2 separate regions of the Homo sapiens genome follow, and region 2 is linked to region 1. Evidence: fine-mapped expression QTL. Tissue or cell type: whole blood. Region 1 holds a variant in brackets; the other region holds the start of a gene. All regions are shown on one strand. Distances are from middle to middle. Region 1 overlaps MIR4432HG (MIR4432 host gene). Region 2 holds the start of MIR4432HG (MIR4432 host gene).

The links. PIP is the estimated chance that this variant, and not a neighbour inherited with it, causes the effect. A credible set is the group of variants that fine-mapping cannot tell apart.
Region 2: MIR4432HG starts here. The variant in region 1 is the best candidate, but not a certain one, in a credible set for the expression of MIR4432HG in whole blood (INTERVAL, PIP 0.53).

What each region holds. Positions count from the first base shown.
Region 1 is chr2:60,374,502-60,382,833 of GRCh38, reverse strand. The region is part of intron 1 of MIR4432HG (MIR4432 host gene); the gene reads left to right. Among named protein-coding and RNA genes, the nearest start is that of MIR4432, 8.8 kb to the left of the region's middle. The variant C/G (reference allele first, on the strand shown) is at 3,838.
Region 2 is chr2:60,386,382-60,394,713 of GRCh38, reverse strand. MIR4432HG (MIR4432 host gene) reads left to right here and starts at 3,339. Exons shown (of 2, transcript NR_132992.1): 1 at 3,339-3,408. It overlaps MIR4432 (microRNA 4432), which reads left to right and starts at 7,269; the gene lies at 7,269-7,352.

The DNA of each region.
Region 1 (8,332 bases):
CCAGAAAGCACCCTGGTAATGCCCTGTGCTGGTCATTGGACCCCACTTGGAGCATCAAGATTCTAAGCTAAGCCTTTCATTTCACAAAGAATAAAAGGGAAACCCGGAGACCTGGAAGAGCTTGTTGGGGCAGAGTAAGGACTTGAGTCTTCCTCTTGTCATGGTGTTGTCCTGGCCCTGCACAGATGCTCCTGGCAGGGATGGTGTGTGTCTTAGCAGAGATGGTGGTCCCTTCTGGAACCACACCTAGAATCCAGGAGCAGGTGGCTTTTCCCCAGATGCTCTGGAGTGGATTGGATCCCCAGAGCTCTTGATGTGAGCCCGCAGGCTTCAGTAGTTGAGAAACTGGATGATAGTAGACCACTCACTATAAGATCCTGCCTGGAATCTTCAAAGGGGGCACAGGAAAGGAGGGCCTATTGAACATGCTGTGTATTGAGAGATGTGTGTGTCAGCAAACCCCAGGCTACTGATGCGACATTTTGGATAGGCAAGTGAGATTTGGAGGGGAGAATATGTGGCATCACGATAGAGGGGAATGGATTTTTTTAGTAGAAATCAAGGATCAGGTTGGGTGCGGTGGCTCAGGTCTGTAATCCTAGCACTTTGGGAGGCAAAGGCGGGTGGATCATCTGAGGTCAGGAGTTCGAGACCAGCTTGGCAAACATGGTGAAACCCCCTCTCTACTAAAAATACAAAAAATAGGCGTGGCGGCGTGCGCCTGTAATCCCAGCTACTAGGGGGTGCTGAGGCGGGAGAATTGCTTGAACCTGGGAGGCGGAGGTTGCAGTGAGCTGAGATTGCACCACTGCACTCCAGCCTGGGCGACAGAGACTCCATCTCAAAAAACAAAAACAAAAACAAAAACAAAAACAAAAACAAAACGAAAATCAGGATCACAGACTTTTTTCCAGTCTACCTCTATGGGATCTTGGACAACCTTTCTAGACCCTCTCAGTACAGTCTCATATGTTATGTGCTTGAACCCAGGTACTAGGGCACGTGCTCTTTTGAAGTTTATTTCCACTCTAAAATTCAAATTGTGGATATTATCTCTTTTTCTCTCTCTAATTCTCTTGCTCCTCTGTCTATCTTTTTCTATTTTTATCTGTGTCGTGGCACTTTGGTGTTATATATACAGTTGTGTACTGAAGAATTGACCAAAAGAGGGGTCTGGCCTTTGCCCTTGGCTCCTGGGAGGCAATCTCTAGGCCCCTGAAGTGTCCAGCCCGATGTCTTTGTTTGTCTGGGGGCTTTGGCAACTGGACAGTCCAATAGTGTGTTTCATAATGGGGGCTTTGGGACACACCATATCAGTTCTAACCTCCATGGGAACTAGAGGCATAAGGTATTGGCCTGAGCCTCCACTGAGGGCTGGAGACTGAAAGTCAACCATGTGGACATTATGTGACTAAGCCCCAAGGAAAACTCTGGACACTAAAGGCTTGGGTGAGCATCCTTTGTTCACAATACTCTGTGTGCATTGTCTCACACTGTGGCCAGGAGGAGGCAACACCATCCACGACTCTATGGGGAGAGGAAACTCAGAAGCTTTGCCTTTAGACCCCTCCTGGATTCCGCCCTACGTGTCTCTTCTCTTTGCAGATTTAAATGTGTATCCTTTTCCTATAATAAAATCACAAGCATAGCGCCTTCCAGAGTTCTCTGAATCATTCTAGTGAATTATCAAACCTGAGGGTATTTGTGTGAATCTCCCAAATTAGTAGCCAGCTGATGTGTCATGAGGATGGCATGGATACCCCCAAACTTGCAGCTAGTGTTTGAAATGAGGGAAGCCTTGTGAGGATTCTCCTTTCAATCTTTGTAGTTGACTGAACTCTTAACAATAGCAGTACATCAATTTAGCAAGTATTCTGGGGAAAACAAAGAAATACATCAATTCCTTTAACCAAAGCCTGCCTGGTTGTAGAGTGGATTAAAGAGTCTAGGCTAGAGTCTAGTGGATTAAAAGCCTGAACTTTGCAGAAAGACAGCCCCACAGATGGAGCTGGGCCTTAGTACTTTCTGGTTGAGGTGGGCATGTTACTTAAATTCCCGAGCCTCAGTTCCCCATCTGTAAAGCATACTTACCTCGAAGGTGTGTTGAGAGAGTGACATGAAATCAGCTATGTAAAGCACAGGGCATACAGGAGCATTCCACACATGGTCACTGTTGTGGTTACTGTTATCATTATTGCTTCTGGCTTTGTTGTTGGTGTGATTTCCATGTTTACCTACCTACTGATATATGAATTACTACTTTGCCTTCTTCAAAATAGTACTTGACTGACTCAGACAGATGGAAGTAAGATAGCCTGATACAATAAACTACCAAGAAGTAGGAAATAAGTATTGGGTAAATGGCAGTGGCTGCTGAGGGAGAAGTGGGGGTCCTCTCTCAGAGTCTCTGGGAGGCTGGGTCTGGCTAAGGGAAAGGTTGCAAGATTGAGCCTCGCTAAGATTGGGAGAGCTGCCGCTTGAGACACGATGACATGTCTTTATATCAGAAGTAGGGGTAATCTTGTAGGGGCCAAAATGTGAGGAGAACAGCAGCTGGCCTGGCCTGGAGGAGTTGAGAGCCAGGCTGTGCATCTCCGGACTAACCCATCCATCTTTATGTCTTCCATAGATTTCTGTTTGGTAAGCAGAGTGGTCATTAATACAGGTGTGCACTGTGCCATAAAGAGCTAGGGGAGAGAGGAAAGGTGGCATTTGGTTTTGGGAACCTTCCATCTCCCTATCCTTTCCCTTCATTTTGTCATTTTGGGTATTGCCAAGTCTCTACAGAGGCTCATTTCCATTTTCTGCTAATTCGTTACTTGAGAACTAAGATATTTACTGATAATGGTTCTAGACATTGCCCTTCCAAGATTTGTATTTTAATGAGAGGGAGGAGTCTCTTTATGAGCCAAAAGAATAAAACTGTAGTGATAAGATATGGTGATAAACTTCATTGATAAAAGGAAAGTGAAACTTAAAACATTAACCTCACAAGGCTGGGTGCAGTGGCTCATGCCTATAATCCCAGCACTTTGAGGGGCTGAGGCTGGAGGATCTCTTGAGGTCAGGAGTTTGAGACCAGCCTGGGCAACATGGTGAGACCCTGTTTCTACAAAAAATACACAAATTAGCCAGGTGTGGTGGTGCACGCCTGTGGTCCCCGCTGTCTTAGCTACTTGGGAAGCTGATGTGGGAGGATTGCTTGGGCCTGGGAGGCAGAAGTTGTAGTGAGCCGAGATTGAGCCACTGCACTCAAGCCTGGGCGACAGAGTGAGACCTTGTTAAAAAAAAAAAAAAAATTAACCCTACAAAACGACAAAACTCCTATCCTCAAACCCTCCAGTCAAATCCTAGAGAACTGCTGCTTGTGAAGTTCTTACTAAGCTCTCTGGAGTCCGCAGTTAGGAGCAGAGTCCTGAATCAGATGCCCGTACCTGAATCATGGCTCTGACACTGATAAGCAGGTCCCTGAGCCTTTCTGTGTCTTAATTTTTTTTATCTGTAAGATAAACAATAAAATAACAATAGTGACTATCTCATAGGGTTGTTGGGAGAAATAAATGACTTACTAACATAAAATATATTGGCACGGTGGCTCACGCCTGTAAAATCCTAGCACTTTGGGAGGCCGAGGCAGGCAGATCACTTGAGGTCAGGAGTTTGAGACCAGCCTGGCCAACATGATGAAACCCCATCTCTACTAAAAATACAAAAATTTGCCGGATGTGGTGGCAGGCGCCTGTAATCCCAGCTACTTAGGAGGCTGAGGCAGGAGAATTGCTTGAACCCAGGAGATGGAGGTTGCAGTGAGCCGAGATCGCGCCACTGCACTCCAGC[C/G]TGGGTGACATCTCGAAAAAAAAAAAAAGAAAAAGCCATTATCTTTTGGGGGTCAGTGGTGTTTTAGTAAAAAAATCAAACAAAAACACTGTATTAGGGCAGTTCAGTGTTTTGATCACATAATACTTGGATTGCACAAGTTGACCACTGGCATCTTAGGGTCTCTCAGAGTTTTAACCAGTGGGCCAGGAATCAGGCAAACAGATAAAAACGTGGAAAACAATGTCTTTTTGTGATTCACCATGTCTGATTAGCAGTGGGAATGTGCATGGAACAGATCCTGTTTGGTTAAATAATAAAAACCAACAGTCTCTTGCATTTGGTAATAATATATTTGAAGTACTGGGGATGAGCAGTTTCTGGTTTGATGGTCTAGGTCTAGATTTCCCCAGCCTTCTCTTTGAACTTGACCTTCAACCGCTGGATCTTGAACCAGAAAACAGTTGAAAGGACATAGTGGAGACAGCGTGGGATCAAGCATGAAGACTGAGCTATGTGAGTCTGGATCAATCAGAACTTTTGTGAGCCTCAGTTTCTATCTCTCTAAAATGAATACCATAAAACTTTCTTCACAGGGCTGTTAGAAGAACTAAATGAGATGATGCATTTGGAATGTTTTGGAAATGATTAAGGATAGTGCAAATGTCCATTATTGTTTTGTTTTTGAAATGTATTGACTCCTGTCATTGCTCCTAGAAGGAGGCCCAGACAGGTTCAAACCCTTGCCCAGGATGAAATAGAGGGAGGATGTGATATGCTTTAGGGCTACTGTTGGCTGAGCTTAGCAATCACCTCTCACCCTTGTCCAGCATGTGGGTCTGCTTGCCTTCTGATCAGGAGCAGACGTCTGTCTTCAGTCTGAGTTTTCTGTCTGCTTGGCTGAACTGTAAGGATCTGTGCTACGTGTTGGATTAGGTTCCATTCTGTGTTCCATCACTGATTAATTTTGTGACTCAGTTAAGTCATGGAGGTCCAGTGTTTTCATGGATTGGGCAGCTCTGGTTCTACCTGTCTCAAAGAGAATTTGGAAAATAAAGACAACTAAAGGATTCAAAGTAAAAGCACTCCTTGTCAGGTTTTTCCACTCTGGAAGCAGGATAGCATCATGATTAAGTACACAGACTCCTGGGTTGCTGATTGCAGGTCGCTTAGCACTCTGGGCCTCAGTTTTCTCATCTATAAATTGAGAATAACAATAGTAAACTGGGGTAATTGTAAGGATGAAGTGACTTAATCATGTGAAGGGCTTCATTATAGTTCCTGGTCCGGGTCAGTGCTCTGCAGGTGTTAGCTACTGTGATGTAGGACATATACTGTATCCCCACTTTGAATGCAAGATTTCTGCAGGAGAAATAGGTGCAGAGGTGTTTGGGACCCTTTGGTCCTTGTTTTTCTGTAGTATTTTCCTGTAAGTCACTGGCAAGTGGAAAATTGGCCAAGCATTACCAATCTTTGTTAAAAAGTGTGGAAAAAAGGTGTTTAAAGATAAATCCCCTAAATAACAACCCTTCCCTGACCATCTTTTCCTAGAGCCTCAAAAGCAGTTTTGTATTTATATGAAGCTACCGGGAAAAAGGCCCCTGTGTTTGAGTTAACACATACAATAATTTATTCTGTGCTAGTTGCACCATTACAATTGAAATCTCTCATATTCTAGAATGGATGGACAAGGTCATGCTGCTAGGTTGGTCAGTTAGTTCTACTTTTTGTTTACAAAGTTTGTGTTCCCAAGTGCTGCAGGAGGCACTGTCTATTCTCTGACCTGCTCTGCAAAGTTTAGTGCAGACAGGCAGCGTCCCATTTTGTAGAGCAGGAGCCCAAGACCCTGAGGTACGTTTATTGGCCATTTTCACCATGAGTACTGATAATGATGGTGTTATTTTGAGATTAGTAAGGACAATTTTGAACACTTCTTGCTGGATAGAAATCCTCCGTGAAGGAACTTGGGAAGGTTTCCTAGGAAAGCACACTGGCCTAGGCCTGGTTTAGGAAGGTTTCAGTGGATGTTCATTATGATTGTTTGCAGGAAAACAAAATCGATGTGATACTTTGAACATGTCACCCAAAGACTACCAATGTTGACCCCAGACACTTGGGATCTCAGCTCTTGGCTGGAGCTGGGCATTCTTGCTGAGTCCAGAAGGAAAGAAAACAGCCAGGTGAGCAGGGCACCAGGAGCTCCGGGTCTGTGTGGCTGCTGGCTGTGGCACAGGGCTGAGAGCATGCACCTTGGGAGGTTTGTGCCTGATGCAACAATGAGGTTTCCAAGAAAGCTTTCCATTGCTCTATTATTGTTTATAAAGAAAAGAAAGTTTTTGTTTTTTTCTTTCCAAACACACAGGTAGAATTTGTCCAGTAGAACTCAACAACCTGGGCCAAAGAGGAGGGAAAGGAAAGTCATTTCTTATTGTCTTATTGGCGATTGTAATTGTGGTTCTGAGGCTGGCGTTGCCCAGGATATGGCATAGTGCAACATTCTAGGAAGTTGTGGGGACATTTGGTATTAGCCTTGCCATTCAGATCCAGGAGCTGTGTCAACACTGGGGTGGTGACATCCTCTTATCTGTTCACTTAACAAGTTTCCTTCCTACCCCATTTACTCCTCATTCTTTCTGGAAGAGATGCTATTTTCTGAGAAAATGTTTTGAAACATCTGAGAATTCAGTGGTAGAGGCTGTGGTGGGCATCCCAGATCCCCGCTTCAAGACCAAGGCATCCATTGTGCTAGCTGCCCAGGGAGAATCAGCTGCTGATGGTCCACAGCTGGTCTTTCTCTAGAACCAGCCCTGGCAGAAGGCAGTGGCCTTACCCAATCTTACTCCCATTCTTCCGGGGGACCCTGCAGCCAATTAGTTGACTTAGGAATAGAAAAGCTGGGCTCCCTTGCTGTAACTTGGAACAGCTCAGAAGGGCAACCCACCTCCAGAGCTCCCCAAGGGAAGAAGGAAGCTTCTGTTACAACCGCACCACACTTCAACTTCCTCACCTGCCTCCTCCTGCTTTCCCTTTTCCCTGACAGGGGTTGTTCCTGAGTGTTTCCCAAATTGCTCTGTACCACAATCTCTGACACAGAGTCTGGTTCCAGGGAATTTGATGTAAAGTAAGTCCCTTGGCACCATGACTAGGGATGAAGCAGTGTCTCTGGTCTCTGACATTTTCTATCTTTTCTAGAAATGTTCCCTTGTCATTTTTTTCCAGCCATGATCTTGGGGGCAGGGACTTTCAAACCCATCTAGGTCGAAATTGTTTACATGCATATATCTGCATGTCATGCAGATGTAAAATCTGAAAGGACACCCTCTGAGGTATTCACAGTTATGGTAGGAAAGGAAGTGAAGAGCGAACTCCGATTTTAACTAAATAAACTTCCATATTGTTTAAATAGTGTAATGAAAATAAATTAATGTATCGCCTGTATAATTACTATTGTTTCTTACATTTTGGCCTATTTTAGAATCTGAGGGTGATCATCTCACCAACCCATGTATTCGCTATCCCCAACCTTGTCGTTTCTTCCTCCCCACCTCCCTCTCATTCTGTGGGGGCTCTGTGCAGCTGGTCCTGAGTGTTGGGGTAATGGTGGGATGAGAGGTGGGGAAGTGAGGATGACCCCCAACCACAGGGGTCAGGGGTCAGCTTCGGCTACTCGCTTATTGGAATGAGTCAAAGTACAACAATAATCTGTACCCCTTGCCACGGTGAATTGATGAAACCTTCCTATCCCAGTGTTAGAGGAAGTGTTTACTATTTTGTTATAGTAAATAAGAAGGGCTTCCCTTCTTCCTGCTGAATTCCACATAGAAGCATGAGGATTTAGTGCAAAGCCAGCACTCTGATGTGGCTCTGTCTTTCCAGATCTTTCATGGTCCGGAAGACCATGTCTGGTCCCTGATCTACTGATAAGGGATGGTTAGTTAGGAGGAGGGACCCGGGGGTGGCTGCCTTTCTCCCTGAAAATTGGTGTCAGTGTTTAGAGCTACCTCTTTGGTTTTGGAACTTATCTGTAATTTAAGGTGTCAAGGTCTGACTCTTTTCATTTGGGGCAAAGACAAGCTGTTTTCACTTTGGGGAGAAGAAGAGGGGTGAACTTTCATACTCATTCTCTCTCCTGCCCCTCTGTGAGTGCCAGGCTTCTGTTTCTCTCTTCCAGGTAGAGCTGATTACTCAGAGCACAAGATATGAAAGGACAGGCAGTCCACAGACATCGAATCTTTTAAAATCACTTAACAATTGAACAGTAACTCCTGAAATGGAAGCCCAGATCCTATACCTCATTCTGAGAAAAGTTACTCTCCACCACCGTGCCTCAGTTTACTCACGTGGAACACTGAAGTTACAGCACCGAACAGAGGCTAGAGGGGGTGGGTGTTTGCTAAGTGGGACCTGGGGCTAACCTTTCTGATCTGGCCTGTCTCCCTAACGGGGCTGTTCAAGACTCAATTGGGTTAATGAATGTGGCTGTATAAAGCAGAATGTTTGTAAATATAAGACTGTC
Region 2 (8,332 bases), 12 kb before region 1:
GTGGGAAATGTGAGCCTCCACAGCCTTAGCTGAATGACTAATAGTATATCCACTTCTGCCTGAGCCAAAAATGTTAAATTGGTTTAAAGATACGGTATAAAAAAGGCCAAGCTGTATCAGGCTTGGCTCAGCCTTGGAAGAGCCACAACACCAACATACTATTTTCACGGTGTGTGTGATTTCAGGCTCTGCTCCCAAGCTTCCACCACACAGGACCAGCTGAGTTAACATACTCAGTGGGTAGCCCTGGCCATCCTAGGCTGGCCTTTCCTGGGCTCCCACTGACCAGCAAGTCAAGCCCCATGCCCCCTGCCTGGCATTCAATGCCTGCAAAAAGAACTTTGCAAATGTTCCAGCCTACTTGGTCTCCTGGATTTCCTTGCACATGGCATGTTCATTTCCACCTCGGAGCCCACTTAGGTCAGTGCCTTCATCAGAAGAATTTGTTTTCCATCCATCCCTCCCAACTTCAACTATGTTGCTTTTTTAAAAAGCCATTCTTGGAGATTTTCATCTAACTGAGTTTTTCTCTCCCTGATCACTCACAGGTCCCACTGTTTGTCCCACAGATTTTTTTCCATGATGGTCTTTTTTAATTTTTAATTTTTATTATTTAGTTGTTAAATTTTACTTTAATTTCTGGGATACATGTGCAGAACGTGCAGGTTTTTTACATAGGTATACACGTACCATGGTGGTTTGCTGTACGTACCAACCTGTCATCTAGTTTTTAAGCCCCACATGCATTAGGTATTTGTCCTAATGCTCTCCCTCCCTTTGCCCCTGCCCCCTGCCCCCCTGTCTTTATGAATTAAGTGAAAAAGTGTGTATTAAGCACTTACATGTGCTCATTCCTCTGTCCGGTGCTTGAGGGGGCTCCAGAGGAACAGGAGCTGCCAGTGATTGATACACAAGGTGCTGGGTATGAGCCCTTTCCTTCCTGGCTTTATGTGATCAGCAAACATTCCTGTGACCATGAAATTCTACTAGGAAGAGCAATCCTACAGCAGCTTTTGTGCACATGCACAAGGAGACATGCAGAAGGTGCTTCTTGCAGCCTTATTTGTAAAACTGTAGAACAACTTGAATGCCCACTGAGAGGAGAAGGGATAAATAAGTTGCAGTGAATTCATATAGTAAAATCCTATAAATAGTCCTACATATAAGTTGTGGTAAAGTCATATAGTGAGTTCCTATACAGCAGTTAAGATGAATTAACTGAAGTTACATGTAATAACTCACCTAAATCTCAGCAAATTTGATGTTGAAAAAGAGTGATCAGCTGTAGAAGTGAAAGTACCATATAATACCATTTATATGAAATTTTAAGACCCACTAAACAATACTGTATATGGATATACACATATTATGTTTCAGTATTAAAATATGCATGGGAATGATATATACCAAGGTTGGCAAATTATGCCCATGGCCAAGTCCAGCCCACCACCTGCTTTTGCGTGGCTTGTGAGCTAAGAATGGGTTTTACAATTTTAAATAGTTGAAAAAAAATCAAAAGAAGGACACTCTTTGGTGACACCTGAAAATTATATGAAATTCAAATTCCAGTGTGCATAAATAAAATTTGCTGGAACACCACCACACTTGTTCTTTCACTTATCAACTATGGCTGCCTTTGTACTCCAAGGACAGGGTTGAATACTTGCCACAGACCGTGTGGCCTGCAAAGGTGCAACTACTTACCATCTGGCCCTTTTCAGAAAGTTTTCCAAGTCTTGATCTATATCAGACTTGGGGGAATGGTTGCCTCTGGTAAGGAAAGGAGAGGAATGGAACTGGGGCAGGAGTGCATCAGTTACAACATTTTATCTCTTAAGCTGCTGGTGGGTTATATATTAATACTTACATTTTGGATGTCTAAAGTATTTTGTAGTTTCAAAAAAAAGTAGAAGACAAACTTCTCACCTCCTAGAAAACCCATAGTAGGTATTATTATGGCTCCCAGTTCACAGTCAGGTATTATTATAACCTACAGTAGGTATTATTATAACCTAGCCCAACCCAGGTTGCCAAAGTTCTATCTCTCTCTCTCTCTCTCTCTCTCTCACTTTCCACGAGGCAGGCAGCCCCAGGCTCACAGGCCAGCAGCTGAGATGAGAAGACATGGGGTTTTTCAATGACTTCAGCAGACTGTACCGGGAGGATTTGGCTAACTGGGCTTGGATCACTGGCCCCTTCCTGCCGGCAGCCCTTCCTCAGATGAGAAAATTCACAGATGAGAAAGCGAAACTTAGAGGGTGCATGGATAGTGAATGCTGGAAGAGGATTAACCTCAGGACCTTCCATCCCAGCACCTCTGGAGCACTGGCCTGCGTTGCCAGTGCTCTTCAGGCCAGCTGGGGGGAAGGGACTGAATGCCAATCTGCTCTGGGATGAACATCTGCCTCCAGGAGACAGTTGTTTAATGAAATTTCCCACCCATGTGATTAGCATCCTCTGAGAGTGAGATGAGTAAAACAGGCTACCACCATCAACATCATCTCTGACTGCACTGCCTAGACAGTAATAACACCCAAGATTTTTAGAGCTTTCTGTTTCTCAAAGTCATGCCCACTGATTCACTCAGGAACCCGGCAGGAAGCAAGGCAGTCCTTGATTGCCCATGTCGTTGAGATGGTAAAAGGGGTATTCTGAGCAACTGTTGAGTTCTTTTACATCCCTGGGATGGCATGGTCACAAAGGCCAGACACCGGGCCTGACTTCAAGGTCACTGTGGCTGCACTACTGAGTGACTGTGGACAAGTCTCACATTCTCTTGAAGACTCAGGAGCCTCCTCTGTAAAGTGGAGATGATAATTATTTCCCACCGCATGGGTGTGTTGTGGGGATTAAATGAGATCATACAAGTGGAATGCTGAGCACCAGTCCAGGAAGGCGAGGGGCACGCCCTACATGTCACCTACTGGATCATTGCTGTTTTCAGGGTTCCTATTACCCAAAGATCCACCTAGAATTCTTCCCCTGAGTGCTGTTCATCTTCGTCAAGGCTCAGCAATGTTTTGGATGATTCTCCTTTGACATAGCTCTGGTGCTTGTTAATACTAAATGTTTTCCAGCTTACCTATAAGGAAACTGAGTCTTAGGAAGCAATTGCAGGGCCTCTACTTTGTGCATGAGAATGAGTGACGGCTGGGGAAACCTGGGATTTGGCCTGATGTTCAAGCACTGGCACCTGCCTGCCTTTTCTCTGTAAACATCTGACCCTAGAATGCTCCACCAGGGCGAGACCATCATCACCAAGCAGCAGCTGCATGGTATTTATCAAAGGAGGCGTGGTTTCCTTTGCTGTGGCTCTCCGCATTCGTGGCAGTTATTCATTTTTGAAGCAGAGGTCACTTTTCTTTCACTGGTGAGGTACTTTGACAAAGACGAAGAAGGGAGACAATGGTAATGATGGTGGAGTCAGGGGGAAGTGGGGATGGGATTGGCATTGGGTTTGAAGGCTGACAGTCAGAGGAAGGGGAGGGACTGAGGATAAAATACTTGCTGTGCTCATGTTGTCCAAGAGTTTGCATTCTCTGGTAGTCAGTGATCAAATGAAGCAGGGAGTTTCGTGTTCAAAAGCAGCACCTACAGGTTCTTTATAGAGGCTTGCCAGAAGATGAATGCCTTGGCTAGAATTTGTAGGCAGGCTTATTTAAGTTACAAGTGACAGACACTCAAACTAATAATAAACAAAAAGGGAATAATTGGCTCATGTAACTGGGAAGTGCAGAGGAATATGGGATACAGGAACAGCTGGATCCAGGGGTTGGCACCAGGTTGTCAGGGTTTTTTTTTTTTTTGAGACGGAGTCTCGCTCTGTTTCCCAGTTCAGTGGTGCAATCTTGGCTCACTGCAACCTCTGCCTCCTGGGTTCATGGGATTTTCCTGCCTCAGCCTCCCAAGTAGCTGGATTACAGGCGTGTGCCACTATGCCCGGCTAATTTTTGTATTTTTAGCAGAGACGGGGTTTCACCATGTTGGCCCGGCTGGTCTTGAACTCCTGACCTCAGGTGATCCACCCACCTTGGCTTCCCAAAGTGCTGGGATTACAGGTGTGAGCCACTGTGCCCGTCCCAGGTTGCCAGGGTTCTGTCTCCCTCTCCCTCTCTCACCTTCCGTGAGGCAGGAAGCCCCAGCTCACAGGCCAGCAGCTGAGATAAGAAGTCATGTCCTTTTTCAATGACATCAGCAGACTATACCAGGGAGGGTCTGGCTAACTGGGCCTGGGTCATTAGCAGCCCTGCCTCAGGAGAGGAGCTATCTACTATGCAACACAGGGCAGTACAAGCCTCGGTTCCTCCCTGTCCACCTAGTCATGAAAATGAGGATGGTTTTGGTGGTTAGCATGTTCCCTCTTAACTTGCCTCAGCATCATCTGCAAAAACTAGAAAATATAAGTGTGCATATTTTTAGCTGTTTTTAAATTTGTAAAACTGGAAACTGTTAAGATATTTACTTAGAACAAGAAAACCTACTGTGCCCTGAGTGAAGTTCACTTAAGCTGCCTCACAGTTACTCCTTGAGTCCTCACTGTCCCGCAGTCTCCTTTCCGCTGAGTTGGGGTGAGTTCTAACTTCAATTTTGCCTGTGAATGTAAATCAAATCTGACCTCCCGTCTCCAGTACATCAAGGGTGTACTCACAGGGACCTAGAAAATATTATATATGGTCCCCTAGAGCTCAAACCCAAGTTGTCTGGGGACAGAGAAGCAACTTTGGGCCATTCCAGGGAAAAGCTCTGGCCACCCTGTAGTAAATCTTCTCCCTTCCTTTCCTTTCAATGGAGGAGGAAGCTTGTCCTTTGCATGAGCATGAAAAATACTAAATTTGGACTTTTTGGAGGTTTTCATTTATGAAGTAGAGTCTATATATTTGGCTCAAGTCTTGCCGGCTGCCCTATTTTCATAGTCCCAGGATCAATATGAGGTTAGTCCATTTGTCTTCTGGAAAAATGTTGTGGCTGGGCTATGTGGCTCACACCTGTAATCCCAGCACTTTGGGAGGCCAAGGTGGGTGGATCACTTGAGATTAGGAGTTCCAGACTGGCCTGGGCAATGTGGGGACACTCTGACTCTAAAAGAAATAGAAAAATTAGGCATAATGGCACATACATTGTGGTCCTAGCTGCTTGGGAGGCTGAGCTGGCAGGATTGCTTGAGGCTGGGAGGTTGAGGCTGTAGGGAGCTGTGATTGTGCCACTGTACTCCAGTCTGTGTGACAGAGTGAGGCCCTGTCTCCAAAAAAAAAAAAAAAAGAAAAAAGAAAAAAGAAAAATGTCGTGCAGTCTTGCAGAATCTTCATGTGATCTTGCTTTGAGGCTATTAGAAAGTTCTTTCATACCCTTCCTCTGTGCTTGGCTGGAAGCCTTTTCCCCTAATTTTGGCACCTCCACCTTGAGTCACCTTGCAGTAGGTGGGAAGTGTTTTCCTTTTACAGGTTGGCCACACAACTGCCTCATCTCCTGTCCTGCACGAGGGCCACCACAGCTCTCCCCTTTCCTTTCCTTTCGTTTCGTTTCCTTTCCTTTCCTTTCCTTTCCTTTCCTTTCCTTTCCTTTCCTTTCCTTTCCTTTCCTTTCCTTTCCTTTCCTTTCCTTTCCTTTCCTTTCCTTTCCTTTCCTTTCCTTTCCTTTCCTTTCCTTTCCTTTCCTTTCCTTTCCTTTCCTTTCCTTTCCTCTCTTCTCTCTTCTCTCCTCTCCTCTCTTCTCCTTTCCTCTTCTTTTCTTTTCTTTTTGAGATGGAGTCTCATTCTGTGGCCCAGGCTGGAGTGTAGTGGCACGATCTCAGCTCATTGCAACTTCTGACTCCCAGGTTCAAGTGATTCTCCTGCCTCAGCCTCCCTAGTAGCTGGATTACAGGCATGCGCCACCATGCCCGGCAAATTTTGGTATTTGTAGTAGAGACGGGGTTTCACCATGTTGGTCAGGCTGGTCTCGAACTCATGACCTCAAGTGATCCATCTGCCTCAGCTTCTCAAAGTGCTGGGATTACAGGCGTGAGTCACCGCGCCTGGCCCAGATTGTTCTATCTCCCTCTCCCCTATCACTTTCCATGAGGCAGGCAGCCCCAGGCTCATAGGCCAGCAGCTGAGATGAGAGGACATGGCCTTCTTCAATGACATCAGCAGACTGTACTAGGGAGGGTCTGACTAACTGGGTCTGGGTCACTGGCCCCTCCTTGCCAGCAGCCCTTCCTCAGGAGAAGAGCTGTCTACTGTGCAGCACAGGGCAATACCAGCCTCAGGTCCTCTCTGTCCAAGGATTTAGTTGGCTTCAGGGAAGGCCCTTGTAATGACCTGAAGATGGAAATGAAGAGGTCAACTTCACCAGCACCAGCCACCTGTCCAGAATGTCTCAGCTTGTGTTTCTTCCTTTAAGATTCAGAAGGGTAAAAGGGAGCCACCAAACCTCATTTGGAGGGTCTGTCATTCTTTGCTGTTACTAGCCACTTCTCTGGAACACTTGTGTCCCTGTATTAGTTAGATGCTTGCAGTTTAAGGGGACTATGGCGTAATCCCATTGCTTTAGGTGATGGAGGATTATTGGAAGGACACCCTGGGAGGTGGGGAAGAACAGTAAATCTTCTCAGCAGTCACAGCTGGGCTTCACCGAGAACTGGAGTATCGTCCATGGCCATATAGGATTTGACAGGAGTTTGTGTAATCTAGTAAATAAAACCCCATGTTCCATAATCAAACTGCTGGGTTCACATTGCAACTCTGCCCTTTACCACTGTGTCACCTCTCTAGCCTCAGTTTCCTACCATCTATACAGTGGTGACAATAATAGCACTGACCATGTGGGGTTCCTTGTCAAGTTTCGGTGAGATCCTGTGCACAAGGACCTAACAGTGCCAGGCAAAAAGTTATGCTCAATGAGTATTGTTGTCAACTGTGGCTCCATGGACACTGTTATTATGAATACTTGTTATTAACAGGGGCTTTGCCCCACAAATGTAAGTCCATTTTTGTCCACTCTCGTGTTGGGGAGTTGGAGTGCTGGCTACTCTTTTCTGTTCTGTCACATGTACCATTACTCTTTGACGACAGCTCCCCATGTCTCAGTCAGATGTCCCAATAGAAGATCTGATTGGCTCTGCCAGGTGTTATCTAGTTTTGGGCAGCCCTACTGGGCATGTGGGGCCCTAATGTTCACACTGGGCCACCTTTTTGGCCTGTTTGCAGCCTATGAATTACCCCCTTGTTTGGTGGATTATGGCCAGAACAGTCTATAACTGAGAATCCCCTCAGACTCTGGGCAGAAAGGCATCTTGCAGAGCCGTTCCAATGCGACACCTCTAGAGTGTCATCCCCTAGAATGTCACCTTGGAAAGACTCTGCAAGATGCCTTGTTAACCATCATGGACCCTGTTAACCATTGTGGGCTAGCATGGTTCTACAAAGACACCTGTGCTCTGCTAGTGAGGGCCCTAACCCATCTCACCCCCTATGGATCCCTCCCTGATTCTGCTGGGATTCCTGCTCACTTTTCCTCTCACATGTTCCCAGCCTCGAGCAAAAATGAGGTATCTGTATTGGAAGCTAGAAATGCTGAGTTTTGAAGCAAATTCTTTGGGTAGGGGGTCCCCTCATAGCAATGCCTCTGGAGTAAGGGGATAAAGACAGAAGGATGACTGACAGGTTTCCTAGGGAGCCCCAGTTCTCTTAACTGAGTGTCTTTCCCCAAGATGGCCTCTCCCTCACGGGGGTAAACGGGGTGCCTGGCGTGGCTGGAGAAGTCTGCTGGTTCTCCCACTGACTAGTGAAGGAGCAGAGAGGGCAGCTCTGCACAGGTTTCTGGACTGGCCTCTTGGAGACCCTTTCGGGGGCTGCCTCTGGAAGATTCACTCCTAGGCTCTCAGAAGATCTGAGGTAGGCTGTTAGCTGAAGCTCCAGAATCCCCTTTCTTTTATTTCTTCAGCAAAGTCCCAGCCTGTTGACCTTTGGGTCCCAGTGCTGAGCCCAGCTCTAGATTTATCTACCCCTCTGGGGCCAAATGCCTGACTTGTTAGCCATGCCGAATGGTTTTATTTGTTTCTGTTGTGCATTTTTATCATTTTTGTTCATGTGCCTGGAGGCTTTCCTTAGAAAATGATGGATGCGTTTTCATAAATCAAAACATAAATGAGAAAGTATATAAAGGCAAAAAATAGACCCAAGTCTGGAATTTGCCACTAGGAGCTGCTAGCTATTTCCCAGGGAGAATGCCCTTTTTGATTTTACAATGTCAGATCCTGACTTATTTCACAGAGTACAATTTTCAGAGCACTTCCTAATACTACTGGCCACAGTAATAATGATGACAATCCCAACCGTGCCTGGTATGGTGC